Linked DNA regions of Homo sapiens. The protein of the gene in region 4 purifies or fractionates together with the protein of the main gene of each other region. This does not show direct contact. Each region holds a gene or a part of one and is shown on either strand. Other genes may lie near its edges. The genes, in order: LIMS1, RSU1, AARSD1 and PARVG.

Region 1 (7,024 bases), on a different chromosome or scaffold from region 4:
GATCCATAGCTTTCATCAGATTCATTAAAGGCAGGGTATTTGAGCCAGAAAACAATTCAGCACAGTCAGAGGCCAGGTCACCAGTCCCTGTAGGTGTACTGTTCACTCTAGCCTCTACTTATTCCATATGTCTTTCCTGTACCAACATGTAGATGTATGGATGGTGCAAAAGAGTATCTGCTTTTTAAAATCCCAGTAGAGTTATAAATTCTTAGAGTAGAACTCTTAGTTTAGAAACATCTTTCCTGTATATCTTCATCAAATAATTATATTTCTCCTGTGATTGTTTCGTGTTTGTAAGTTGGTGGTACCCTCTCTTTCAGTTTGAAGGAAGAAAGTACTGTGAACATGACTTTCAGATGCTCTTTGCCCCTTGCTGTCATCAGTGTGGTAAGTTTTACTGCTAAATGTCAAGTAAAAAGTAAGTTTCCGGCCAGGCGCGGTGGCTCACACCTGTAATCCTAGCACTTTGGGAGGCGGAGGGAGGAGGATCACCTGAGGTCAGGAATTCGAGACCAGCCTGGCCAACGTAGGGAAACCCCGTCTCTACTAAAAATACAAAAATTAACTGGGCATGGTGGCAGGTGCCAGTAATCCCAGTTATTCAAGAGGCTGAGGCAGGAGAATCGCTCGAACCCAGGGGGCAGAGGTTGCAGTGAGCTGAGATTGCACCACTTCACTCCAGCCTGGGCAACAGCAAAACTCCATCTTGCGGGGAAAAAAAGTAAGTTTCCACATTACTTCAGTCATTTCACACTGGTGAAGTATCGATGGTAAAAATGGTTTTTAGTGCTCATTATGAATAACTGTTGGATACTTCATCACTCCTCTTCCCTATTGTTAACATAGAACAAGCTGGAGGAGTATCAAAACCTAGAGATCATTGATTTTTAAGGACATTTAAGGTAGAGGTATTTTGGGATGAACTAGGACTCCTATCGGGTGGCGTTTGGGAGTGTTCTTTTCCTGTGTTAACACAACCTTTACCAACTTGCTTTTGGTTTTGCCCAGAAAGAGGCAGGGAAGAAATCAGTGAGGTGCTTCAGAAGCTTAGGGATGCTTAAACATTGCTTGCACGGCGCATAAGTGATGGACTTGCTTGCACGTTGGCCACTTCACTGGTTGCTAATACCTCTGCCGGGTTTCCAGAGATTGAAGAAACTGGGTAGAATGTTCTAAAGGTTTAATGAAAGAATAAATTAAGTATGGGTTATAAGAAACTGTGCTGTAGATTTCAGTTGTCTATGTTGACAATGACCAGAAATAACCAAAAGGCATTCAAGAGAGCCTAGTAGCTCGTTTGGACAGGAAAGCTAGATTCAGAGATGACACAAAACAGCCCAAAAATGTGGCTGTTGAATCAAAAACAAAAATTCAGATGAAATAAAACTTTTTTGCTAATGTGCTTACTCTGGTAGACACATAAAAAGTTCTTCTACTGGCCACGTGTGGTGGCTCACGCCTATAATCCTAGCACTTTGGGAGGCCAAGACGGGCGGATCACCTGAGGTCGGGAATTCGACCAACATGGAGAAACCCCGTCTCTACTGAAAATACAAAATAGCCGGGCGTGGTGGCAGGAGCCTGTAATCCCAGCTACTTGGGAGGCTGAGGCAGGAGAATCGCTTGAACCCGGGAGGCAGAGGTTGCAGTGAGTCGAGATGGTGCCATTGCACTCCAGCCTGGACAACAAGAGCGAAACTGTCTCAAAAAAAAAAAAAAAAAAAAAAAGTTCCTCTATTGAGAAAGGCTTCAACGGTTTTTTTCCTCATTGTTTTTCCTTAATTACTCTCTCAGTAAATAAAGTGCCATGCCTGTTACTTAGGATGTTACTTAGTAACATCCTTTGTGTGTTGCTTTCCCACAGGTGAATTCATCATTGGCCGAGTTATCAAAGCCATGAATAACAGCTGGCATCCGGAGTGCTTCCGCTGTGACCTCTGCCAGGAAGTTCTGGCAGATATCGGGTTTGTCAAGAATGCTGGGAGGTAGGTGGATTTTCATCCTTGTCAGATGTGGGTGGACAATGTGACTGTGACAAGATCATGTGTATTCTCCATGTGGGATGTAAGGCAGTTCTGTAGGACACTGAATTGAGGGCATGGGAACTCAGACACTGCAGTGTGTTGACTGAGTGCTGCTGCTGGGAGTGGACCCTTGTGTTGCTGTTCACAGGGCATAACTGCTCCATGCATGGCTGAACTACCAATGGGGGATGTACCTAGATGGAGTTTCTTAAAAATCAGTCATATTAGGGTTGGAACACATTTTTCATGTGGCTTGATTCTGCCCCGTGAAGCACAGGAGTGATTTTTTTAAGAAATGGTTTGTTTAATTTCTTTTCAGAGATAAGGGAAGCATATTTCTTTTTAACCATTAGAAAGAACCTAAAATTTTAAATTTAAGTTTTGACTCTGTTTAGACACCTGTGTCGCCCCTGTCATAATCGTGAGAAAGCCAGAGGCCTTGGGAAATACATCTGCCAGAAATGCCATGCTATCATCGATGAGCAGCCTCTGATATTCAAGAACGACCCCTACCATCCAGACCATTTCAACTGCGCCAACTGCGGGTACTGGAATTGTTTCTTTTTTATTACACAAGCAGTGGGAATGAAAGATTACATTTATCTATATTTCTGTTACTCTAGCAAACCAAATTGTTTTTCTCCAATTTTTAGTCTAGAAAATTTTAAACCTATAGACGAGTCAAGAGAATGATATAATGAAACCTGTATACACTTAATTTCGTTTCACCAGTTGACATTTTGCCATGCTTGTGTGTATACAGTCCACATTCTCGTTTCACCCTCCTATGTATGTGTGCACGTGTGCCTGTATACGCATACCTCTAAAATTTCTCATGAGTCCCAGTATGCGTCTCCTGAGAATAAGAGCATTTTCCTATGGAACCACGATACTTTTTGTAAATTTTTTTTTGCCTTGAGACAGGGTCTCTCTCGCTCTATTGCCCAGGCTGAAGTGCAGTGGGCAATCAGAGCTCACTGCAGCCTCACCCTCCTGGGCTCAAGCAGTCCTCCCACTTCAGCCTCCAGAGTAGCTGAGACCACAGGCACACACCACCCTTCCTGACTAATTTTTTTAAATTTTTTGTAGAGATGGAGCCTTGCTGCGTTGCCCAGGCTGGTCTCAAACTCCTGGGCTCAAGCAATCTACTCATCTCAGCCTTCCAAAGTGCTGGGACTATAGGCATGAGCCACTGCACCTGGCCAGAACCACAATACTCTTATTATGCCTAAGAAAATTAGCAATAATCTTATAATATCAACTATCAGTCCATATTAAAAATATTCCCAGTAGCCCCAGAAATATTTGTCATCACTATGTTTTTCCAATCGAAGATCTAAAAACAAAAAAAGGTCTTATCTCTGTACATGCATAACTTTTACAGTTGTAATAATTAGGTATTATCTTAAAAGATGTTGTTACATTTATTTAATTTGGCTTGGTTTATATCTAAAAGAAATATATTTAATTTTTTGTCTTCAATAAGTTATGATAAATTGTTGGGCTATGAATTTTTCTCAGTTTGCTGCCTAGTATAAAAATTTAGTGGATAAAGATTCTTGGCCGGGCGTGGTGGCTCACACCTGTAATCCCAGCACTTTGGGAGGCCGAGGCGGGCAGATCACGAGGTCAGGAGATCAAGACCATCCTGGCTAACACGGTGAAACCCCGTCTCTACTAAAAAATACAAAAAAAATTAGCCGGGCACGGTGGCGGGTGCCTATAGTCCCAGCTACTTGGAAGGCTGAGGCAGGAGAATGGCAGGAACCCGGAAGGCGGAGGTTGCAGTGAGCTGAGATCGCACCACTGCACTCGAACCTGGGAGACAGAGCGTGACTCCATCTCAAAAAATAAAAATAAAAAAATATTCTTTACTGTAGTTAATGTGAACTTACTTGCTAAATTATAGTAGGGATGGAGAAGAAACAGTAAGCCAAATACTAAGAAAACAGTTTGGGCCAGGTGCAGTGGCACACGCCTGTAATCCCAGCACTTTGGGAGGCCGAGGCGGGTGGATCACGAGGTCAGGAGATCGAGACCATCCTGGCTAACATGGTGAAACCCCATCTCTACTAAGAATAAAAAAATTAGCCAGGCGTGGTGGTGGGTGCCTGTAGTCCCAGCTACTCGGGAGGCTGAGGCAGGAGAATGGCATGAACCTGGGAGGTGGAGCTTGCAGTGAGTGTGGATCGCGCCACTGCACTCCAGCCTGGGCAGCAAAGCAAGACTCGTCTCAAAAAAAAAAAAAAAAAAAGAGAAAGAAAGAAAACAGTTTGGTTGTATAAGTTCAGCCATCTCATCTTTTGTGATTGAATTATCAGTTTGTGCCTTATCTCGTTTTCTTGCCTGTCCTTCCTCTTGGGGATTCACCTCTGTCCACTTTTCATTAGCATCTCTCCTAGAGAATTACATAAAAGGGATGAAATTCAAACAAGTCCGTTTGACTAATTGGGACCATCTCTGACCAAATGTTTATTGATGCAGGAGACTGAAAATAATATTTAATTTGAGTATTTGGAGAAGGAAAATTCTGGGCATTTTGTTGTTTATGAAAATAAACCTATTAACCTATAACTATTTTCAACAGCTTGTGACAATTTAAATAATTGTTAGTAAATGGAACTAGTCTCCCAACTTCTCAGTTTGCTTGGAAAGGTCGTGTGTTAGTCTATTTTATGCGCCTGTAACAGAATACCACAAACTGGGTAATTTGTAACCAACAGAAGTTTATTTGGCTCATGGTTCTGGAGGCTGGGAAGTCCAAGATCAAGGGGCTGGCATCTGGTGAGGACCTTCTTCTGCATCATTACATAGCAGAGGGCATCACATGGTGGGGGAAGAGGAGGGGGGAAGGAAGAGAAGGAAGGAGGCTGAACTCGTCCTTTTATAAGGAACCCACCCCCTCAGTAACAGCGTTAATCCATCTGTGAGGGCAGAGCCTTCATGATGTAATCACCCCTTAGAGGTCCTACCTCTCAACACCTCAGAATTGGGGATCATGAACTTTGGGGACACAGTCACACCATAGCAGATAGTATTACTGAGTCTACCCTCAGCACTGTGATTATTCCCTGTAGCTTTTAGAGGAAGACAAATGGACTAAAATGTAATGTGATAATATAAGAAGGAAATTATGAATATGACTGGTGTGGTGGTATGTATCTGACCTAGTCTTGCATCTTATCCTTTTAAGATACAGATGTTTTGGTAGGAGTCTGAAACCTGTTCAGGCCTATTAATTCAGGTTATTCTGATCACCTCTAAAGGGGAAAAAAGAAATTTGCAGGGATTGTCATAGTAATGTCTTTAAAAACCTTCTAAAAAGTGTGCTAGCCCCATTGGTTGGCCACTTTTCTCTCTTAGTATTAAGCTGTGTGTCTTTCTCACGGACAGGAAGGAGCTGACTGCCGATGCACGGGAGCTGAAAGGGGAGCTATACTGCCTCCCATGCCATGATAAAATGGGGGTCCCCATCTGTGGTGCTTGCCGACGGCCCATCGAAGGGCGCGTGGTGAACGCTATGGGCAAGCAGTGGCATGTGGAGGTGAGTTCTAAATGGCAAAGGGTAACCAATCCTTTCAAATCTCCATGATTAAGGGGTAACCAATACTTTCAGATCTCCCATGATTCAGGGGTAACCAGTACTTTCAAATCTTCATGATTCAGGTGTCCTGGCAAGATTAGGAGACTCTAAAGATTAAACGTGGACATTTTAAAGACAATTGACTTTGCTGACAGCTAAGAATATATAATGTACACTGCTTTTGTGAATGTCTCAGTAATGATACAGGATGTGTACTTTTGCTCCTAAAGCCTTCTTGAAGCAGGAAGTGCCATGGTCTGTATCCAGCAGCAGCTCCTCCTTTATAGGTGCTACTGAGATGCTCACCTCTATTCTCTTTTTGGGCTATTATAATAGGCTATGTCTTAAAGTAACCTTCAAAGACAGACACCTGAATTACAACTGCAGAAGTATTATATTATGGGGCCACCTATGGCCAAATGAAATGACTGTCTCAAACTTTCCTTCATCTTCTCTGAAAATAGGTTAACTCTGGTATTTACTTTATTAGATATAAAATATGGCAATTCAAAAATGACCTATAGCAATTTTTTTTCAGCATTTTGTTTGTGCCAAGTGTGAGAAACCCTTTCTTGGACATCGCCATTATGAGAGGAAAGGCCTGGCATATTGTGAAACTCACTATAACCAGGTATTGACCTTAGTCACTGGATGCTAGATAGACTTTTATGAACCTAAGCTTATCAGTAGTTTAGCTACAAGGAAATCTCTTGGAAGATGTACATTGTTCAGTAGAGATTTGTTTTTAACTTTTTATTTGGGAAATAATTTCAGACTCAGAAGCTAACTATAAAATATACAAAGAATACCTGTATGTCTTTCATTCAAGTCCACAGTTTGCTTTATCATTTCCCAAGCTCAGTCTTCCTGTGTAAAACACATAGTTACGTAAATATTATATACAAGTACGATGGCTGTTTTGCCAATAAGTTCATCATACTCCTTTATCCCTAAATACTTCAGTGTATATTTCCCAAGAATATGGGACTCTCTAACATAATTGTAGTTATCAATATTGATACCGTACTCTAACCATTTATTCCAGTTTTGTCACTTGAGTCAATATCCTCACAGCATTTTTTCCACTCCCAGACTGGACCCAGCCTCTGGCTGTGATGTTTCTTTAGCCTTCTTAAATCTGGAACGTTTCCAGAGTCTTTTAAAATTTTTGATGACATTGACATTTTGGAGGGATGCAGAGGGCCCCTAACCCCTTTTTAATAGACTACTTTCCACTTGGGTTCACCTGGTGCTTCTCTGTGCTTAGATGAGGTTATACACAGCAGGTTGTGGCCTCATACAGTGGCAGGGCATCTTCTCAGAACCTTGCCCCTGGAGCATTTTATACCTCTCCTGCCCTGGTGATCTCCCAGGCATGGTGCTGGCTGATAACATCACTGTGAATTACAATTTC
Region 2 (7,024 bases), on a different chromosome or scaffold from region 4:
CAGAGCGGGGCCCTGAGCATGGAATTCCTATGTGTCAAAATGTGGATGGATGGAGATGGATGTTAGCACCTGCTGGAGGGAGGGGGGACAGCCAGCATGTTCCATCCTTCATTCTGCAGAGAGAGAACCCACCATGTCACCATCCACCTGGACTGGTGTCCGGAGAGGTGGCCAGAAGTCTCTGCAGTTCCTTGGCCGCTTTGTAGCTGGGGCTGTTGCTAGCAATTCTTCTGAAGTTTTAGCATTTGTTTAAGGACTTCTTTCTGCCCGCCAGGGTGGTGTGCCTACCACTGTTACTTACTGCTGTCAGCGGCACATGGGACTCTGCTGTGTTCCTTAAATGTTGTGGGTATTGGTTTGTCACTCAAAGGAAAAAGGAATCTGCAATTAAGTAGATTCTTGCCACCAGGAGGTGGAGGGGCTCCAGGCTTGCTCTGGGCTGAAGATTGAGTGGGAGCTCTCTCTCAGGTGAGATGCCTCTTCCCTCTAAGCCTGTCTAACCGTGGATTTCCTCTACCTAATATTGCAAAAGTGTATTTATTTGCAGAGAAAAATGTTAAGGAATCAGCAGTTTTCAAAAAGAGATAACCGAAAGCAGCGTTTAAAGACAGAAGCACCTAGTGTGGTCTTCTCTGCTGTCCTTCCTTTGACTTGCAATTCTTCTCAGAATCCTTGTATCAGAGCCCAAGGGTCTGGAGCAGCTTTGGCCTCCGTGCGGTATGGGGTGTTTCCAGACACATGTCGCCTTCATCAGTCACTTCTGAAGTCTTGGCTCCTCACCCTCTCTTAGGCTGTTTTTTCATCTCAACATAGCATTAATGACAAGCTCCATCTTACCTGTATTGCAAGGTAGTTTTAGTGAACAAGCGAAGTCCTTGCCATAATGTGCTTCACAAATTGTGACTTCATGGAGAATGTTTGTTCTTGCTGTCGTGGCAGTAGATAGTCGTGGAGGTAGTTTTGCTGGGTGTAGTCTGTCTGGGAAGTTTTCTGCCTGACAGGGGGAACCCGCGTTTCCCTTTTGGTTGCCCCCTCTGCTGTCAGCTGTTTCTGGTGAGGCCCTCTTGGTAGGGCTGGATGGAGCTGAATGTGTTAGGAGAAGGATCGATGGCTAGAATGATTTTTATTGTCACAGTCCCTTCCACCTTTCAGTATCTGTCAACTTTTATTAAATTTTTTTTTTAAAAATTGGCTTTTAAGTATGCTCAAAGGGAACTGCGTTAAGAAAAATAAGGGGCTTGAAGAAAGGATAAAAGATAGTGTAGAAAAAAATTCCCTTAGACTTCACTGGAGACACGCCCACACACACACACGCACACCCACACATACCCACACGCACCACACCCACAGCACACACACATACCGTGTACAAACACACCCACACACACACCACACACACACTGCGTACACACACACCACCACACCCCCAAACACACCCTATACACACACCACACCACACTCATACCTACCCCACACCACACACATACCCGCCCCCACACAGCCCCCCACGTCCTTCACACACCACACCCCACCCCTCACACACCACACGAAACACCCAGATACACATACACATAACATCACACACAATACCACACACACACAGCACACACCCCACACACACACTCACACACAATTGACCCTTGAGCAACACATGGGTTGCGGGAGCAACACAATGACTCATGCAGTCAAAAATCCACACATTACTTTTGACTCCGAAAAATCTTAATTCCTAATAGCCTACAGTTGGCTGGAAGCCTTACCAAAACTAGAAATAGTTGATGAACACATATTTTGTATGTTACATGTATTCTATTCTGCATTCTTACAATAAAGTAAGCTAGAGAAAAGAAAATGTTATTAAGAAAGTCGTAAGGAAAAGAAAGTGCATTTACTGTGCTTTAAGTGGAAGTGGATCATCTTAAAGGTCTTCGTCCTCTTCATGTTGAGTGGGCTGAGGAGGAAGCGGAGGGTTGGTTTTGCGGTCTCAGGGGTGGCAGAGGTAGAAGAAAAATATCCATGTCTCATTGGACCCAGGAAGTTCAAACCCATGTTGCTCAAGGGTCAATTGTATGATTTAAAAATTTTTTAGGTTGTGATAAAATGCACACAAAATGTACCGTCTTTGTAGTAGACAGTTCAGTGGTGTTAAGCGTATTCACATTGTTGTTCAGCCAATCCCCAGAATTTTCTCATCTTGCAAACCTGAATCCTACGCCCATTAAACCACACCTCTCCATTCCCCCTCCCTCCAGCCCCTGGCCATCACCATTCTAATTGAAGATAATTTTCAGTGTTAGCAGTTGTAGAACAAAAACATGATTTTCCCTCCAAAAAAGGAATAAATGGAATGAAATCAAGCAAAAGCCTGAAAACTACAAAGCTTCATGTGTATATTTTGAGATATTATCACTACGTTCATAGGGAAGTTGTTCTTTACAAGGAAAGATATTTTGTAATGGTTTGAGTTTTTGTGTAAAGCAGTGATTAAGTTTCACCGTTGGAGGAAAATAACAGCTAAGAAATTTTCAAGTGTTTCAAGATCATGTAAGCTGTCTGACTGAAATTATTAGCCTAAATAGGACAACATACCACACCTTCTCACTTATATGTGGAATGTAAAAAAGTAAACCTCATCGAAACAGGGAATAAAATGGTTACCACAGGCTGGAGGGAGAGGGGAATTGCAGAGATGTTAGCCAAAGGACATGAAATTTTAGTTAGGAGAAATAAGTTCAAGAGATGGATTGTACATCATGGTGACTGCAGTTAATAACAATATGTGGTATAATTGAAAATTGCTAAGAGAGTGAATTTTAAGCAGTCTCACCACAAAAGACAAAAAAAATGACAAGCATATGAGGCAGCGCGTGTGTTAAATAGTATGATTTAAACCATTCCATGATGTAGTATACATACATCAGAAGTATCATGTTGTACACCATAAGTATGTACAATCTTTGTCATTGTAAATATTAAATAAATGCTTTTTTTAATTAAAAAAAAAAAAGGATGGGCATGGGGGCTCACGCCTGTAATCCCAGCATTCTGGGAGGCCTAGGTGAGAGGATTGCTTGAGCTTAGGAGTTTGAGACCAGCCTGAGCAACATGGCAAAACCCCATCTCTGCAAAAAATACAAACATTAGCAGGGCGTGGTGGCGTGCATCTGTGGTCCCAGTTACTTGGGAGGCTGAAGTGGAAGGATCGCTTGAGCCTGGGGAGGTTGAGGCTGCAGTGAGCTGAGATCATGCCTCTGCACTAAAACCTAGGCAACAGAGTAAGACCCTGTCTCAAAAAAATAAAAAATAAAAATAAAGTATAAAGTGACTCTAGGATCATGGCACTGTCTTACACTTTCAGCGTCTGAAACAGAGGTGCCCTTGATAGTCTGTATGAATGTGTCTTTGGTGTCATGACATAGATTTTTGTCCCCCTGCAACAGCATGAACAGGCTGAACACTTTGCCACGAGGCTTCGGCTCCCTGCCAGCTCTTGAGGTTCTGGACTTGACGTACAACAACTTGAGCGAAAATTCTCTTCCTGGAAACTTCTTCTACCTGAGTAAGAAACTTTCAATTCTATAAATCTCCTCAACCTTGTACTTTGCGTTCTGAGAGGGAAATTTATTTGCCAGGACCCAAACTCCAAGAGAAATTATTGGACAGAGATAATTTTTTCTTTAGAGACTCCTTTTGAATATTCCTTCGTAGCTCAGCAGTATGTGCATTTGATAGATCGTTATGTGACACCATTGGGCTGAAGTGGACTTAGTAATGTCATATTAACATTCTGAGAGAGATTATATACCTAAATGAGATCAAGCCTCACATTTAGCTAAGAGACTTGACTTTCTTTTTAAATAGCATGCCAAAAAAAAAAAAAAAAGTATCTTCCTATGTTGCTATTAATTCTTTGTAGGATATTTGCCCAGGATATTCCAACCAATTATTTATTAAAAATATTTATTAATAAACCAGTAACACAATTTTAAAATTTTCCAGCCAGTATTCCTATTTTGAGCCTTTTAAAAAGTACTCTTATTGACCTATTTATCCAGTACACAGGCATTAAGAAATTATTGGCCACAGGTGAACACACTTTATTCTTTCATATGCAAACAAATTTCTTGCTGGAGATGCTTTTGAAAATTAAAAAATGATTTCTTCTGGGAACTCATGCACTATTTTGGACAAGGTTTGCTTCCCTTAAATCAGTGTTCTATTTCTTCAAATAGTAACTTGTGTGGCATTCAGAAAATCTGAATTTTCAGAGCTGATCTCTAAAATTTTATTTTTTACCTTACGTACATTACCTTTCTATGACTTTCTCAAGCACATGAAACCAACTATAAAATATTTTCTTGGGCAGTGGAGCAACTATTTTTATTATGTTATATTAACATGCAGTTCTCGGGAGTATGAGCTACAAAGATCACTTGAGGCTAGGAGTTCAAGACCAGCCTGGGCAACATAGAGAGACCCTGTCTCTAGAAATAAAAATTTAAAAAGTAGCCAGGCATAGTAGCATGAGCCTGTGATCTTAGCTACTTGGGAGGCTGAGGTAGAAAGAGTGCTTGAGGCCAGGAGTTTGAGGCTGCAGTGACCCACTGCACTCCAGCCTAGGTGACAGAGCGAGACTCTGTCTCTAAAAAATAAATACGGGTAAACAAAACATGTATCTAATTATACTCAGCTTTTTTGGTTGAAGATAAACAGATGCTTTAGAATTTTAGCCTTCAGTAGGTTGGAATCGTATTATCATTGTGTAATAATTATGAACAAATTTCTGACTACTGATATTCTCCTTAAGTTAGGATTTACTCTGTTAACTTCATGTCATTATTTTAGCCTCTTTGTCTTCATTTACTTTTGTCCTTAAGGCTGTAGAAACACGTAGTAATAATTAGTCAGATTATGGAACTGATGAGCTGTGGTTATAGCCTCCATCACCAGAAAGCCTTCCATTAATTTGTAACACAGTGCTATTTACATAGGAAAAGGTCTATTTTAACAGAGCTGTATTCTCTTGAAAGAACCCTTTTGCCCTAGGTATCCATAAAAGTGGCACAGTAGTGTTCTTTGTTTTACTTTGGATGCAAATGGAGAAATAAATGTGAATCAAAAGTAATCTATGAGAAGTATAGCAATCTTTTCTGAAAATGTGCTGAAACTCTGTGCCCCAAAATGCTGGCGCCCACAGTTGTTAATTGCGTCATTCCTCTTGGATATAGATGTTTTCCTGGACACACCAGCTACACAATAAGCCAGTAAATCTAAGTTTGACCTGCTTGTTATTATTGGGAGCCCTAGGTATGTCAAAGGCTTTTCACCAAGCCAGGGTTATTAATCAAAGCTGACTCCCTCGTATTGATCAGACCTCAAATGGTTGTGTTCCATGCCACCCTGTTTATATATTGCTGTTTAATTTGCAGCCACCCTGCGTGCACTCTATCTAAGTGACAACGATTTTGAAATCCTGCCGCCAGATATTGGGAAGCTCACAAAGTTGCAGATAGTAAGTAATTTATCTAAATTCTTAGAAAATCAATTCACTGCTGCAGCCTTGTAGGGGTAGAATCAAGTCAATTTGAGCAGGAGTAAGGTTTGTTTTGTGGGAATAAACCACTACTCCTGATAGTGTTTCTTGATTATCCGCCGGCACTTGTAAATACATGGAAAGGATTGAGCTTTAGTAGAAGAGAGGACATAGAGGATGAGAGTTTCTGTGGAGCACCTTTTAATGTGTAAATATGTTGACAACTTGTTTTCTTCTGTTTAGCTCAGCCTTAGGGATAACGACCTGATCTCGCTGCCTAAGGAAATCGGGGAGCTTACCCAGCTTAAAGAGCTCCACATTCAGGGGAACCGCCTCACCGTTCTGCCCCCAGAACTAGGTAAGGTTGCTGATGAATGAACTTAGTTCTGGGTTTCATGAATAACAATTATCCTAATGTAGCAATTCTGAACAACCTCTGTCCTCTTCTTGGCAACTACTCTCCACCTAGGCACACGATGCTGATCATTTGAGAACCATTTGTCATTGACCAGAGTTAGCTGTTACAGGTTTGACCTTCCCGGATCCTGTGTTCTGCAGCTGTAGTGTCCCCTGTCTTAGAAACTGCTGATGAAAGATGACCCCGCTCAGCTCCCTGCGTGATGTAGTGGGAAAAGCATGGGATTAGTAGTAAGAGCCTTATCCCTGGCTCCTCATTGACTAGCTGGGTAAGCTTTCTGGGTCTTGGTTGGTTATTAATAACTTTAAGTATCACTCTTACTTTTTAACCCCTTAAATTTTTATTGACCTGGAAAAACTTTTACCAAATAGTTAAAGTAGTTGTTATGGCTACTTGAACATGTTGATACCTCTGCGGGTCGTGAATTTGCCTCTCTCCTGATCCCATCTCTAGTAGGAATTGTTAAATATGTTCTTGCTGGGAATGGATCCTACTCCTGGCCGCTGAATCCTAATCCTGTTTCTCTGCCAGGTCGTTCCTATTTCCAGGGTGGGTTTATGTCCCCCGCCAGAAATAACCTCCAAGCCAGTAATTCTGTTACTGCTTCGTTCCACTGCAAAAGGTTCACGAGTTCCCTTATCTTTTCTTGTGCAGACCCTCCATAGCCTCTCATTTCTTCAGTCCTTTGAACCACATTGTTTTCTCAAACTGCGATTATTTGCTTTTCTACTCCAAAATACCATCATTTTTAAGAAACACATTGAGGAAGCAGTTCTTTAAACAAGTTTGGCAGTTTGAAGAGGCCATTTGTTAGAAATTAGAATGCAATCACCAGGAGGGCAGGGACATTTTTGTATTTGTTCCCTCGGGTACAGTAGGTGCTCAGAAAACACTGACTGAATGAATTAATGAAGCAAGGACCTTGGATGACAGGACGTTAGGAAGGTTATGAGCAGGCTCATGTGGCTAATGGTTACGCATAGGAAGACTGAGACACAGAGCACGCCTATCAGCACCTTGAGTTCTGTTGGCAGCCATATTAGTCTAAAGGGAAGGCAGTCACGTGATTTCGT
Region 3 (7,780 bases), on a different chromosome or scaffold from region 4:
TGCTTTGTCTTTTTTCCCCCCCGCCCCCAGGATGATTCTGACAGTGCTGATGATGCAACAAGTAATTAACTTTCTGTGACGCAAAGCTGGGAAGGCAGCTGTGGCTATTTTCCAGTTGTTCTAGAAAGCTAGCGCCTAGGCCTTTGTCAGCGCTTTGGCTGTGCACCAAGTTCTTCTGAGATCTCTGAACTTTCCTAGAAGCTCTTTATTAAGGGTCGTCCTTCAAGCTTGTCTTCCTCCTAGGCACTTGACTATGGCTCCACATCAGATGCAGGGTCGGGGAGGGGTAGACTGGTAGGGCTTCTGATTTCTTACTGATTGGTTTCTAATCTCTGTGTTTAGGCCACTTGATTATTTGAGTATGTGTGTGTATGTGGCAAAACAAAAGCCAAAGAAGAATGCAGATTATAGAAATCTCTACTATGTGTGCATATGGGGCAAAGCAAAAAGCCAAAGAAGAAACAGATTATAATAAATCTCTAGGAACTGTTCTCTGTCTGTTTCCTTCTTGTACTTATTCCTCCTGGTGGCAAGCCTCTTCTCCCTCTAGTAACCAAGCTGGGGTGCTTCCTCTTGCCCAGATTTGTGCTCTGATTTCTTACAGCTAATTCTGTCATCTCTAGAACCAGCCACTTCAGCTTCCTGCACACTCTAGAAATCTCTTTATACTTTTTTTTTTTTTTTCCGAGATGGAGTCTTGCTCTGTCGCCCAGGCTGGAGTGCAGTGGTGCAGTCTCTGTTCACTGCAACCTCCACCTTCTGGGTTCAAGCAATTCTCCTGCCTCAGCCTCCCAAGTAGATGGGACTACAGATGTGCACCACCAGGCCCAGCTAATTTTTGTATTTTTAGCAGAGATGGGGTTTCACCATGTTGGCCAGGCTGGTCTCGAACTCCTGACCTCAAGTAATCCACCCACCTCAGCCTCCCAAAGTGCTAGGATTACATGTATGAGCCACCACACCCGGCCCTCTTTATACTTTTAAAACTGATTGTTACTCTAGTTAATGTCTATGTTTATTTGTCCAACAGCTATTCTATTTGTCCATAAACTTTTTTGAGTGCCTAATATGTACAGTTGACTGTAACTTAAACAAAATAAATGCATTGCCTATAGACTTTGCTCTTGAACTCATGGTAAACTATTAGGATTTACTTTAAAAGTAAACTTTATTTATTTATTTATGTTTGAGATAGAGTCTTGCTTTGTTGCCCAGGCTGGAATACAGTGGTACATTCATTATTCATGGAGCCCTGACTTCCTGGGCTCAAGTAATCCTCCTGCCTCAGCCTCCTGGGTAGCTAGGACTACACTACAGCTGACTAAGTTAAAAAATATTTTTGTAGGCTAGGTGCGGTGGCTTATGCTTGTAATCCCAACACTTTGGGAGGCTGAGGTGGGTGGATCACCTGAGGTCAGGAGTTCGAGACCAGCCTGACCAACATGGAGAAACCCTGTCTCCACTAAAAATACAAAATTAGTCAGGCGTGGTGGCTCATGCCTGTAATCCCAGCTGCTTCAGAGGCTGAGGCAGGAGAATGGCTTGAATCCAGGAGGTGGAGGTTGCTGTGAGCCGAGATCACACCATTGCACTCCAGCCAGGGCAACAAGAGCGAAACTCCGTCTCGCTCTATAAAATATATATATATTATATATTAATTTTATATATAAAATATATATTATATATATTAATTTTATATATTATATATAAATTATATATTTAAAATATATAATATATAAATTATATATGATACATATTATATATATTTTATATATTATATATCTACATATATAAATACATATATATTTATATATTATATATTATATTATATATTATATAATATATATTTTATATATTATATTATATATTATATAATATATATTTTATATATTATATTATATATTATATAATATATATTTTATATATTATATTATATATTATATAATATATATTTTATATATTATATTATATATTATATAATATATATTTTATATATTATATTATATATTATATAATATATATTTTATATATTATATTATATATTATATAATATATATTTTATATATTATATTATATATTATATAATATATATTTTATATATATGTAAAGACCTTGTCTTTAGGACAAACTATTTTTTTGTAAAGATTTGCTTGTTGCCCAGGCTGCTCTCAAACTCCTGGCCTTAAGCCTCCTTCCTCGGCCTCCCAAAGTGCTGGGATTACAGGCCTGAGCCACCATCCCTGGCCCCATACTGCATTATAAATACTATAATACCTATAATTTATTTTATACTATGTAGTTCTAAGGTATAATTATATAACATACAAAACAATATATAACATGGAACATAAACATATAGTATATATTACTTACATGCAGTATGTTAAAACTTAATTAGCAGATGTGTTGTGTGTGTCTGTGTGTGTACACAACTGGAATCATACCATCCGCATCTTGCATTGTGCCCTTTTTCATTTAATATATATTGGAGATCTTTACAAGTCAGAACATATAGATCTAACTCATTTTTTTCATGGCTATATGGTATTCCATTGAATGTATTTTTCATAATTTCACAGGTTCTTTATTGAGGGACACGTAGGTCGTTAGTCTTTTACCATATTCTTTTTTTTTGAGACGAAGTCTCGCTCTTGTCCCCCAGGCTGGAATGCGACGGCGTGGTCTCAGCTCACTGCAACCTCCGCATCCCGGGTTCAAGCGATTCTCTTGCCTCGGCTCCCCTAGTAGCTGGGATTACAGGCGCCTGCCACCAGGCCCAGCTAATTTTTGTATTTTTAGTAGAGACGGGGTTTTACCACGTTGGCCAGGCTGGTCTAGAACTCCTGACCTCAGGTGATCCACCTGCCTCGGCCTCCCAAAGTGCCGGGATTACAGGCATGAGCCACCGCGTCCGGCAGTCTTTTACCATTTGCAAACAATATTGCAATCAACATTTAAAAATGTGGATCTTTACATATTTTTGCCAGGATATCTGTAGGGTACATTTCTAGAAGTAGAATTGCTAGGTCAAGGAGTAGATAAAATACATTTAAACATTTTGATAGCTGTTACCAAGTTGCTCTTTGATGAAATTGTACCAATTCTCACTCCTACGAACAATGAGAGTGTTCCATTCTCTAAATCGTTTCAGATATTTGACAAGATAAAAATTAGCACCTGGTTTAATTTGCTTTTTTTTTTTTTTTTTTTTTTTTTTTTTTTGAGACGAAGTCTCGCTTTGTCAGCCAGGCTGGAGTGCAGTATCGCGATCTCAGTTCACGGCAACCTCCGCCTGCCAGGTTCAAGCGATTCTCCTGCTTCAGCCTCCTTAGAAGCTGGGATGTAATCCCAGCCTGTAGGTGCCCGCCACCACACCGAGCTAATTTTTGTATTTTTAGTAGACACAGGGTTTTGCCATGTTGGCCAGGCTGGTATCGAACTTCTGGCCTCAGCTGATCCAGGCACCTCGGCCTCCCAAACTGCTGGGATTACAGATGTGAGCCACTGTGTCTGGCCCAAACTATTTTAATGTAATGTAATGTAATTTTCTTGAGACGTAGTCTCGCTGGGTTACCCAGGCTGGAGTGCAGTGGTACGATTTCGGCTCACTGCAACCTCCTCCTCTCGGGTTAAAGTGATTCTCCTGCCTCAGCCTCCCGTGTAGCTGGGATTATATAGGCGTGTGCCACCACGCCTGGCTAATGTTTTTGTGTTTTTAGTAGAAACAGGGTTTCACCATGTTGGCCACGCTGGCCAAATTGTTCTTCTTTTTTTTTTTTTTTTTTTTTTTTGAGACGGAGTCTCGCTCTGTCGCCCAGGCTGGAGTGCAATGGTGCGATCTCGGCTCACTGCAAGCTCCGCCTCCCAGGTTCACGCCATTCTCCTGCCTCAGCCTCCGGAGTAGCTGGGACTACAGGCGTCCGCCACCACGCCCGGCTAATTTTTTGTATTTTTAGTAGAGACGGGATTTCACCGCGTTAGTCAGGATGGTCTCGATATCCTGACCTCGTGATCCGCCCGCCTCGGCCTCCCAAAGTGCTGGGATTACAGGCGTGAGTCACCGCGCTCGGCCTTTTTTTTTTTTTTTTTTTTTTTTTTTAATTGAGACGGAGTCTCGCTCTGTCGCCCAGGCTGGAGTGCAGTGGTGCAATCTCTGCTCACTGCAACCCCGCCTCCCGGGTTCCAGCGATTCTCCTGCCTCAGCCTCCCGGGTAGCTGGGATTACAGGCGCCCGCCACCACGCCCGGCTAATTTTTGTATTTTTAGTAGAGACGGAGTTTCGCTATGTTGGCCAGGCTGGTCTCGAACTCCTGGCCTGAGGTGATCCACCCGCCTCGACCTCCCAAAATGCTGGGATTACAGGCGTGAGCCACCTCCCCCAGCTCCTTGCTTTCTATTTCTACTGGGCAGTGCTGCTCAGTAACCATGCCAGTCCCGTCCCCGCCTCTATGCGCTGGGATTCCGCAGCCAGAATACTTACATCCCTGGGGCCCCAAGGGGCTCACTAAACCACGTGCCTTGTCCAGGTCGCGTTTTTTTGTTTTTGTTTGTTTGTTTTTTTCCTCCTGGTCTTGTCCTTTGTAAAGCCTTAGAACAGTCGTTAAACAACCCAGCAAATATGCAATTCGCGTTTTCAGTAAATTTATCCAAACCGCATTCCATTCCTTACCCTCCTGCTTCTGCGCAGACAAGCGCCCTTGATGACGTTTGTCCCACGTCGCTCTCCGTTCGCTCCCAGGCTTCTCTGCGCGTGCGCCTCCTCACACGCCTGCAGGTATGGCGTTCTGGTGTCAGCGTGACAGTTATGCCCGAGAGGTACGGCGTCACGGCGAGGCACTTGAGACTGCCGGGCCGGCAAGGCGGTTTGGGGAAGAGGGCGCCACGTGTAGGGAGTGCCAACATGGCATTCTGTCCTGGTGTGGAGAGGGCTAGGGCTAGGGCTGGGGTCGGGGCTTATTCTCTCATTCCTCTCTGTTCAGTTCACCACCACCGTGGTCTCCTGCTGTCCCGCGGAGCTGCAGACTGAAGGGAGCAACGGCAAGAAAGAAGTGCTGAGCGGTTTCCAAGTGGTGCTGGAAGACACAGTGCTTTTCCCTGAGGGCGGGGGACAGGTACCAAAACGATCTCTTCCCAGGAAGCCCCCAGTTTCTTTGTGCTCAGGCCGAAATGCTCTCCTGCCCCTTTTTTCTCAGCCATAATGAATTCAGATGAGCTTTAGTTTAATTCATTTTGTTATTCATTTAATGAGTATTTATCAGCAATTGCTTATCTAGACATAACATATGCTAGATATTATTCCAGGCTGTAAGGATAACCGGTGAACAACACAGTGCCTTTATATACGTGGAATGTTTATTGAAGACAACTGTGTGTGCTAGGTATAATAAGTAATAAACAAAAACCAAGTAAAGGGAAAGAGAGTGATGGGATGCTTGTCTAGATGAAGGGTAAGTTATTTCAGTAGAGACCTAAACGAAGTGAGGGGGTGAGTCTTTGCAATTATCTAGTGGTGCTGGGGGGCAGAGGGAGTATTCAGGCAGGTAGAATAGCAGGTGCAAAGGCCCCAAGGAAGGAATTAGCTTCGGGTTTTAGGGACTGAAAAAGATGTTCCTGAAGGAGTTCAGGTGAGATAGACGGGTTACAGTAGTACAGCAGAGAGCATATTTATCAGTGCTGTGATGAGGACTAGGTACAACATGAGCGCAAGTGAGGTACATTGTGAAGATGGAAGAGGAGGATAATAACACCAAAGGTGGGCATTATGAGAAAGGCTTTTCTTTCTTTTCTTTTCTTTCTTTCTTTCTTTTTTTTTTTGAGACAGAATCTCTCGCTGTCATCAGGCTGAAGTGCAGTGGCATGATCTCAGCTCTGCAACCTCCGCCTCCTGGGTTCAAGTGATTCTCCTGTCTCAGCCTCCCAAGTAGCCTGACCAACATGATGAAACCTTGTCTCTACTAAAAATATAAAAATTAACCAGGCATACTGGCAGGCCCCTGTAGTCCCAGCTACTCGGGAGGCTGAGGCATGAGAATCACTTGAACCGGGAGGCTGAAGTTGCAGTGAGCCAAGATTGTGCCACTGCACTTCAGCGTGGGGGACAGAACAAGACTCCGTCTCAAAAGAAAAAAAAAAGGTGTATTAAGGTGTGTGGGCAGCGAACCATGCAGGTTATTTTCTTTCTTTTTTATTTTTAAGAGACAGGATCTTGCTATGTCACCCAGGCTGGAGTGCAGTGGCCTGATCTAGCTCACTGCAGCCTCGAACTCCCAGGCTCAAGCAATCCTCCTGTTTTAGCCTCTCCAGTAGTGGGGACTACAGGCGCACAACCAACATGCTTGGCTGCTTTTTTGTAGAGATGAGGTCTCACTTTATTGCCCAGGCTGATCTTGAGCTCCTGGCCTCAAACAGTCCTCCCACCTTGGCCTCCCAAAGGCTGGGCCTACAGGTGTGAGCCACTGCCCTGGCCTCCACTCAGGTTCTTAAGCAAATAAGTGACATGAGAGAACATGTTCAGTAGACTTGGTATTGAGAGAGTTCCAATTTCATATCAGTCATTATTATGGTGATTTTCCCAGTATGAAGATTTCCCTGATCTGCTGAAGGAAAACCTGTGACCTCAAGTATCCATAGAAGGTCTCATTTTAGACAGCATTTCTTTCAGGAAGTCTTTTTTTGATTCCCCAAGACTGTTAGGTCTCTTTCCTTTGAGGTTCTCTAGCGTCATATACTTTTTCATATTATGGCATGTTATAGGTCATATTGCAATTGTCTGTTTTCCAGCCTCTGTTCTCTAGACTCTTAAGTTCCATGAGGTACCATATCTTGTTTACATTGTATTCTTGGGCTGGCACAGTCTTTTGTAAGCAGTTGGCACTTGAAATGTTTTAAAATGAATGAACTTTTTTTTTTTTTTTTTTTGAGATGGTGTCTTGCTCTGTTGCCAGGCTGGAGCGCAGCGGCGTGATCTCGGCTTACTGCAATCTCCGTCTGCCAGGTTCAAGCAATTCCCCTGCCTCAGTCTCCCGAGTAGCTAGGACTACAGGTGTGCACCACCATGCCCAGTTAATTTTTTGTATTTTAGTAGAGACGGGGTTTCACCATGTTGGCCAGGATGGTCTTGATCTCCTGACCTTGTGATCCGCCCACCTCGGCCTTCCAAAGTACTGGGATTACAGGTGTGAGCCACTGTACCTGGCCCTTTTTTTTTTTTAAATGAGACAGTGTCTCACTCTGTCACCCAGGCTGGAGTGTAGTGGAGCAATCATAGCACACTGCAGTCTCAACCTTTTGGGCTCAAGTGATTCTCCCACCTCAGCCTCCCAAGTAGCAGGGAGTATCATGGCCAGCTAATTTTTTATTTTTCATAGAGGTGGGGTCTCACTGTGTTGTCCAGTCTGATCTCAAGCGATCCTCCTGCCTTGGTCTCCCAAAGTGGTGGGATTACAGGAATAAGCTACCATGCCCAGCCTAAATGAACATTTTTGAATCTAATTCTAATACCACTGCAAGAGGATGGAGTGGAGGGAGGGAGGAAAAATCAGATCATTTTAGAGACTACAAAAGAATCTAGACTAAGGCAAGGAGAGTTGAGGATTAAGATTCTTCGGGTTTTACTAAAATTTTTGTTGCTGTAGTTACAATCTCTTTAATTCTGTTATTCTGAAGATCACAACACATAGGTGTTTAGAATGAAAAGGACTGAGAATCCTCTCATGGAACAAAGTGGACTCATTTCACTTGGCATTGCTTTCTCCCTCTCCCTTAGGGAGCCCAGATTCTG
Region 4 (7,024 bases):
CTTGACCTCAGCAGAGGGCATCTGGCTGGCAGAGGCTGAGGCCAGGGGCTGTCAGGCCATATCCCTGAGCCATGCGTGGCCGTCCGTTCATTGCCACGGGGAGCCTTCACGCCCTGAGCAAAACCAATGCTCTCACCATGAGGGTACTGTCTCCTGTGAGATTACCGATGGCTGTGACAGTGCCCTGTTCTCTTTCTAGGAACCTTGCCGGGTTTCCCCACCCTCAGATGTTCTGTCTAGCATGCGGCCTGCCTGTGCTGCGGTTAATACCCAGGAATCCACGACTTCCCTCTCCAGACAGACTCTGAGCATCACAATAGGGGGCCCCACCAGCTCTTTGCTTCTCATGACCGCCCCCACCCCACCCCAGCCTCGGGTCCCTCATGCATAGGGGCTTTGTGTGTGAGGGCTTGCCTCTGACTCGCCCCAAGAGAATAAGCCAAGTTTGGCCACACCCAGTCAGAGTCATTTCTATTTTTTTTTTTTTTTTTTTTTTTTTTTGAGATGGCGTCTTGCTCTATTGCTCAGGCTGGAATGCAGTGGTACAATCTTGGCTCACTGCAACTTCTGCCTCTCCAGCTCAAGTGATCCTCCCACCTCAGCCTCCCAAGTAGCTGGGACTACAGATTTGAGACACTGTGCCTGGCTAATTTTTTGTATTTTTGGCAGAGATGGGGTTTCACCGTGTTGCCCAGGCTGGTCTTGAACTCCTGAGCTCAAGCCATCCACCTGTCTTAGTCTCCTAAAGTGCTGGGATTACAGGCGTGAGCCACCACACCCGGCTTTCTACTGTTTTTTAAAACCATTGATTATAATTCCCTACCAAGCAGTTGTGTGGCTTGGTCTATACTGCCAACATAAATCAGAAGTGACTTCATTGATTCACTCCTTCACCATTCATTTGTTCATAGTCACATGCTCATTGATACTGCCCTCCTCCCACTGTGAGACTCTGGGGATGCCTTGGGGAGTGAGGCAGACACATCCCCAACCTCAAGACTCCTGGGGAAGAAAGACAATTAAGCCAGAGGCTGTCCTGAGGAGGGATGATACAGAGCAAACGGATCACTGGGGCTTCTTTGGGCCCCAGAGTTTTCTGGATTATTTAATTTCTTCCCCCTTTATTTTTCTTAGAGCACCAAAAGTGGTCTGAAGTCAGAGAAGTTGGTGGAACAGCTCACTGAATACAGGTGAGGGAAGGATGAGGGCCCATGGGTGGGGCTGGGGCTCACAGCGGTGGATGGGGGCAGGGTGGGGGCCAGGGCAGATCTGCCTGACCTTTGTGGGAAGGGCCCTCACATTCTGTGGCTTTCTCTCAGACCCGAAAATGCTGCGCTGACCTCTCAATCCCACGGCAGCACACAGGACCCCTTTCTAGCCTCCAACCAGGTCCCTGCCTGGCCCCTCCCAGCCACCCTGCTTTGTTTTCTAGGGTGGGGGCCCCTGGGTTTGGGGTACAGGGCCCAGTGAATCTGTCTCTCTAGTGTGAGCAGGATGTTCCTCTTTCCTTGCAAAGCTGTAAGAGTTAGAGGCCCCTGCATGGCCAGGGGCTGGCCGTCTTGCTGCCTGCCCACTTTAGGGTGTGACTGTCTTGTTCCCCGCCCACTTTGGGGGTGTGGCTGTCTTACTCCCCACCCACTGGGGGGTGTGGCCATCCTGCTCCCTGCCCACTGGGGCATGGCCATCCTGTTCCCTGCCCTCTGGGGAGTGGCCATCCTACCTCCTGCCCACTGGGCATGGCCACCTGCTCCCCACCTACTGGGGTTGACCATCCTGCTCCCTGCCCACTGGGGCTGGCCATACTGCTCCCTGCCCACCGGGGGTGTGGCCATCCTGCTCCCTGCCCACTGGGGCTGGCCATACTGTTCCCCACCCACTAGGGCTGGCCATCTTGCTCCCCGCCCACTGGGAGCATGGCTGTCCTGCTCCCCATGGAGCAGAACAGGTGGGGCCTGGAGAGGGATGGGCCCAGGGGCTGCACAGGCTGCCAACAGGTCCACCGTTGCTGGCTTCTGTGTGGCGCTAACTCACGATCTCTCACAGGGATGCAGCCAAGATGCTGGCCAGGTGGGGCTGCCATCCTCTGAAGGCTTGGCTGGGGCTGGAGCTGTGTGGACAGCACATGGTGTCTGTCTCTCCTGGCAGCCTTGGCCTCTGTGCTGAGCCCAGGTCTCTGTCACAGGCTGCTGGGCTCTGCCCCGTGGGCCCCAGCTTTCTTCTGGAGGGCTGTGGTTAGAGAGACTTGGCCTGCCCTGGACCTACAGAACTTCTCTTCTATGGGGTAGAGGTGGATCTAAAAACGTGACCAAAAAAAAAAGAAGAAGAAAAATTGTTCAAAAACAATAAAAATGGAGTGAAAGAAGCCAGACCCAAAAGAGGACACGCAGTATGGTTTCATTTCCATGAACTTCCAGGACAGGCAAAACCAACAGATGGCAAGAGAAATCGCAGCTGTGGTCAGCGTAGGGAGGGAGAGGATGGAAGGGAGAACACGGGGGGTGCTGGGAGGTTCTGCAGCATGTAAGTGGGGGTGATCACACAGGTGTGTATGTGTAAAACGCACAAGCTGTGAGCTTACGATTTGTGCACTTTATGATGTGTGTGATGTATCTCCCTCAGAACAGAACACGAACAACAAAACCAGCAAAGTCCAAATGTTTCTAGGTGTGGAAGCCTCAGGGAAGGGCATGAACCTGTTTCTGCCCTTTGCTTCCCACAAAGACCTTCTCTGCTATCTGCCCTACCTACAAAGCTGCCAGGAAAACCACAAGCATGCCAGTTTCTTTGCAACCTTGCCAGCACTGAGGCTTGTCATATTGAGAAATTGTAGGTTTGCGGGGTGTTTTTTTTTTAACCATTTGTTTGCTTTTTCCACCCACTGCACAGCACAGACAAGGACGAGCCTCCAAGTGAGTACTTTCATCATTTTTGGAAATCTGTTCCTATCTGATGCGTGTTAATGCAGACAAGTCTTAATGCAGGGTTAATTGCTGAGCATTCTCTCATTTCCCTGTCACTTGCTGTTTGTATCTCAAGCCTCATTCTTATTCATTTGTCCCTCTTTCTGTCTGTCCATCCATGGAGCTGGCTGCTCCTTCTCATGATACTGTTCCTGTGGGGAGAGAGATTTATAATTCACATGGGCAGTGATGGTGGAGTCTGTTAAATGTGTGGGCTCTGGAGTCAGTGGCCTGGGTTCAAACACCAGTGTTCCCACTCATTAGCCACTTAAGTTTGGGCAAGTATCTTAACTTGTCCGTGCCTCAGTTTCCTCATCTATAAAAGGGCACTCACCTTTTAAACTGGCAGTGAGGGTTAAAGGAGATAATGTATGAGTGTGTTCAGCATGTGGGCAGTGCTCAATAGTGAGTGGGCAATAATGTGGCTTCTGCTCTTCTGACAGAGCTGTTCACCAATCAGTTGATTGTTCTAGTTGTTACTTCTTTCATGCATCCATTCCTTTGTCACTGGTCTGGCCAGCTCTTCCCCTTCCCATCCATTAATCTATTTATCCATCTATTGATCCATCCTTTCTTCCATTCATCTATCTACTTACCCACTTATCCACCCACCCACCTATCCATCCATCCATTCATACACCCATGCATCCATCAACCCATTCTTCCATTCATCTATCCACCCACCCATCCATTTATCCATCCCTCCATCCATCCATTCATGCCTCCATTCATCCATCCACCTACCCATCCATCACCTGTCCATCCATCCATCCACCTATCCATCCATCAACCTATCCATCCATCCATCCATCCATCCACCCACCCACCTATCCACGCATTCATCCATCCATCCATCCCTCCATCCATCCATTCATGCTTCCATTCATCCATCCGCCTACCCATCCATCATCTATCCATCCATCCATCCATACACCCACCTATCCATATATTCATCCATCCATCCATCCATCTATCCATCCATCCACCCACACACCTATCCATCCATCCATTCATCTATCCACCTACCCACCTATTCATCCACCCATTCATCTATCTACCCATCCAACCACCTATGTATTCACCCATATCCATCCATCCTAACACTATTTTTCCTCCCTATACCCTCCCCACTTAGACACATAGCTATGTGGGCAGGGATGCTATGAGGGGCACCTTCCCTGCAGAGGTAGAGATAATAACCTGCCAGGAGCTTCTGAGAATGGGGGCTGAGGAAGGCGGAGTTTGGGGAGAAAGGAGAAAGGAGGGGCAAGGAGGGCTGGCTGAGGATCTGTGTATGTAGCAGGAGGGGCAGCCTGAGGACATGAGGGGTTGCCCAGGGAGCAGTATTTTGGGCAGGGGGCAGCATGAGAAGTGGGTGTCAGAGGGTGAAGAAAGGACACAGAGCAGGGGCATTTTAACGTGCATGATGCTATTTGGTGCTACTTTTCCCCCTTCACTAACAAGGGAACTGAAACAGAGAGAGGTGCTGTGACTTGCTTAGAGTCACACAGCTGCTGAGTGGCAGAAGCCACAGCAAACTCAGGCCAGTCTGTGTATTTGGTGCCCAAGGACCAGTGTCCCCATGGGAGGTATGTTAGCTGCAAATAGCAGGAATCCAGCTAGTGCACAAAGGGCATTAGCCTGAGGACATGGGCACCCGAGGCTGGACCCCAGGGCCTGAGCCGCTGTTCCCAGACCCCAAGGGAGTGACTGAGTTGCTGAAGAGCTGGCCTTTTGCAGGCAGCAGGTTCAGACACTCTTGGGGGCGGGGGGAGGCAGCAGGGAGCAGTCCTCACTCAGCCAATTTAAAACCAAGGGGAGGAGACTCATGGACCCTGATCACCCACCTGTGGCAGCTCCCGTGGCCCTGGGGAGTGGAGTAGGGCCCTGGGAGGAGGGAGTGCCAGCTGGCAGATAAAGGGATGCAGCTGTGCAGATGTAGTAACAGGTGTCAGCTGCAGGAAGAGTGGCTGTTTATGAAGTCCTACTGTGTGCCCAGTCACTGTGCCATGGGGCCATGTGTGTTATCTGCTATGGAATTCCATCTCTGCAACAACCCCAGCTAGGGAGGCACAGAGAGAGACGGTGACTCCCCTGGGGCCACACGGCCAGGAGAGCAGTGACTCAAATCCAGGTCTGTTTTATTTGAGAACCATGATGTAAAACGACAGCTCCCTCTGGACTGGTTATTCTAAGAAACTTTTGTGAAAAAAAAAATTCCCTGTTTGGCACAAAGATAATAGCATCGTAATGAGGTGTTTATTGGATCTGTGTCTGCAGAGGACGTCTTTGATGAATTATTTAAGCTGGCTCCGGAGAAAGTGAACGCAGTGAAAGAGGTAGGAGAGATCAAAGCTCTCAGCGGCTCTCAGGCTGCCCACCCCACCCACTGCCCACCTGCGCTGTAGGAGGGAATCACGGGTCCTCCCATCACACCTGCTGTGTGCTAGGCCCTTGTTCTTCCCTGGTTAGGCCATCGTGAACTTTGTCAACCAGAAGCTGGACCGCCTGGGCCTGTCTGTGCAGAATCTGGACACCCAGGTAGGGACTGAGCTGCGGCGTCCCCAGGCAGGGCAGGGCCACTGGCCGTAGGAAGGAAAGAGGGTTCTGCAGGCCCTGGGAACCTGCTGTGTGGTGGGGGTTGCATCACCTCTTGGAGCCTTAGGGTCCCCCTCCCCGGTGGGACTGTTGCTGGCAGGCAGCAGTGGTCACCAGGGACATGGTGGGATCCCGGGGGTGGAGGTGTGGGAACACTTCACAAAGCTGGAGTCACCTCGGCTGTCACTGCTTCTCATTGTTATAATTTTATTTTATAATTAATCTCAGACTAGCTGATGCCAAGACTTGAAGCATATGAGTCTTCCCTGCGTGGTTGTGTTCGCCCAAACAGAATTTATTAGATTTGTCCCATGTGCCAGGCGTAGGTGACAGCGCAGCCCAGCCGTCTGCAGGCTCCATGTCTCTCACAAGCACCCTGAGGAGCCCAGCCCCTCCCCCGGCTGACTTAAGTCGAATTTTCCCAGGAGCAGGAGCAGAATCTCAGGGGGTCAGCACCCACCATGGGCTGTGGCTTTCCACAGTGAAGCTGTGTCCCTGTAGGCTTCCCACACTGCAGGGGAGCAGGGGGTGCACAGTAGCAGACCGGCTGCCAGCCCGGGGCCTGCAGAGTGGGCATGGAGTCTGCTGGATGCCAGTGGCCTGAATGGGACATGACGTAGGCATCTGGCCACCTGGGTTCTGCTGGGTGCTGGGGTCTGGGGTGGGGAGGGAGTCTGGTCCCAGATGGACCAGTTGGCTCATGAAGATCGTAGCCAGAGCTGCTGACCTCTCAGAGAGACTCTGGATGGGCATTGGCTGGGGAGGGAGGGGTTAATGTACTCCCATGCCTAGTAGCTAAAACCAATAAAGCCCTCACTATGTGCCAGTCCCAGGGCAAAATGCTTTCCATGTTAACTCATTGAATCCTCTCCATAATCCTCTGAAGTGGGAACTGTACTACCCCACTTACAGAGGAGGATGTTAAGGCACAGAGAGGTTAATTAACTTGTCTAAAGTCACACAGTGATAAGTAGTGGACCTGGGATTTGAACCCAGGCAGCTGGGGCCAGAGTTAGTGCTTATAACCACCTCACATGGTGGCCACGTGAGAAGTTTGTGTGTGATATGGTGTGGCAGCATGGCAGGGTGGAAGTATCACGCTCTGTAGCCAGACAGACACACATTTCCCTCCTGCCTCCACCACTTATGGGCCCTGGGGTCTGCTGAGAACCCTCCACATTTGCTGTGTGACCTTGGGTGAGTTACTGGACTTCTCTGAACCTCAGGCTCTTCTTCTTATAAAGTGGGTACAAGATAGCAACTTGGTAGAATTGTGAGTGATACATGAGCTGGTGAGCCCCACGTGTTTGGTATATTACCTGGCACGCTGCCGGCATGAAATAAGTGAGAGATTTGTAGTTTTATTATATTTTATGTGGGTATAAACAGGATGATTTCTGAGATTTACATTCTACCTGTTCTATCTGTATCTCTCCCTTGGTAAAATAATGGGTTTCAGAGACTCA

The links.
Region 1: the proteins of PARVG (region 4) and LIMS1 purify together in Homo sapiens (affinity purification with mass spectrometry; 4 studies listed by BioGRID and IntAct, with this or other methods). This does not show direct contact.
Region 2: the proteins of PARVG (region 4) and RSU1 purify together in Homo sapiens (affinity purification with mass spectrometry; 4 studies listed by BioGRID and IntAct, with this or other methods). This does not show direct contact.
Region 3: the proteins of PARVG (region 4) and AARSD1 purify together in Homo sapiens (affinity purification with mass spectrometry, with the first as the bait; 3 studies listed by BioGRID). This does not show direct contact.

What each region holds. Positions count from the first base shown.
Region 1 is NC_000002.12:108,670,458-108,677,481, forward strand, and holds part of LIMS1 (LIM and senescent cell antigen-like-containing domain protein 1), read left to right. Parts: intron 1-323; coding exon 324-390; intron 391-1,867; coding exon 1,868-1,988; intron 1,989-2,422; coding exon 2,423-2,572; intron 2,573-5,420; coding exon 5,421-5,571; intron 5,572-6,148; coding exon 6,149-6,241; intron 6,242-6,337; exon of another isoform or gene 6,338-6,473; intron 6,474-6,856; exon of another isoform or gene 6,857-7,024. UniProt on the Homo sapiens protein: Within the IPP (ILK-PINCH-PARVIN) complex, binds to F-actin, promoting F-actin bundling, a process required to generate force for actin cytoskeleton reorganization and subsequent dynamic cell adhesion events such as cell spreading and migration.
Region 2 is NC_000010.11:16,751,406-16,758,429, reverse strand, and holds part of RSU1 (ras suppressor protein 1), read left to right. Parts: intron 1-3,440; coding exon 3,441-3,559; intron 3,560-5,429; coding exon 5,430-5,512; intron 5,513-5,776; coding exon 5,777-5,891; intron 5,892-7,024. UniProt on the Homo sapiens protein: Potentially plays a role in the Ras signal transduction pathway. Capable of suppressing v-Ras transformation in vitro.
Region 3 is NC_000017.11:42,961,437-42,969,216, reverse strand, and holds the start of AARSD1 (alanyl-tRNA editing protein Aarsd1), read left to right. Parts: upstream 1-4,762; 5' UTR 4,763-4,776; coding exon 4,777-4,815; intron 4,816-4,979; coding exon 4,980-5,111; intron 5,112-7,780. Other genes in the region: putative protein PTGES3L, read left to right, coding at 31-69; PTGES3L-AARSD1 protein, read left to right, coding at 4,980-5,111. UniProt on the Homo sapiens protein: Functions in trans to edit the amino acid moiety from incorrectly charged tRNA(Ala).
Region 4 is NC_000022.11:44,190,915-44,197,938, forward strand, and holds part of PARVG (gamma-parvin), read left to right. Parts: intron 1-1,134; coding exon 1,135-1,190; intron 1,191-2,886; coding exon 2,887-2,909; intron 2,910-5,240; coding exon 5,241-5,299; intron 5,300-5,432; coding exon 5,433-5,501; intron 5,502-7,024. UniProt on the Homo sapiens protein: Plays a role with ILK in promoting the cell adhesion and spreading of leukocytes.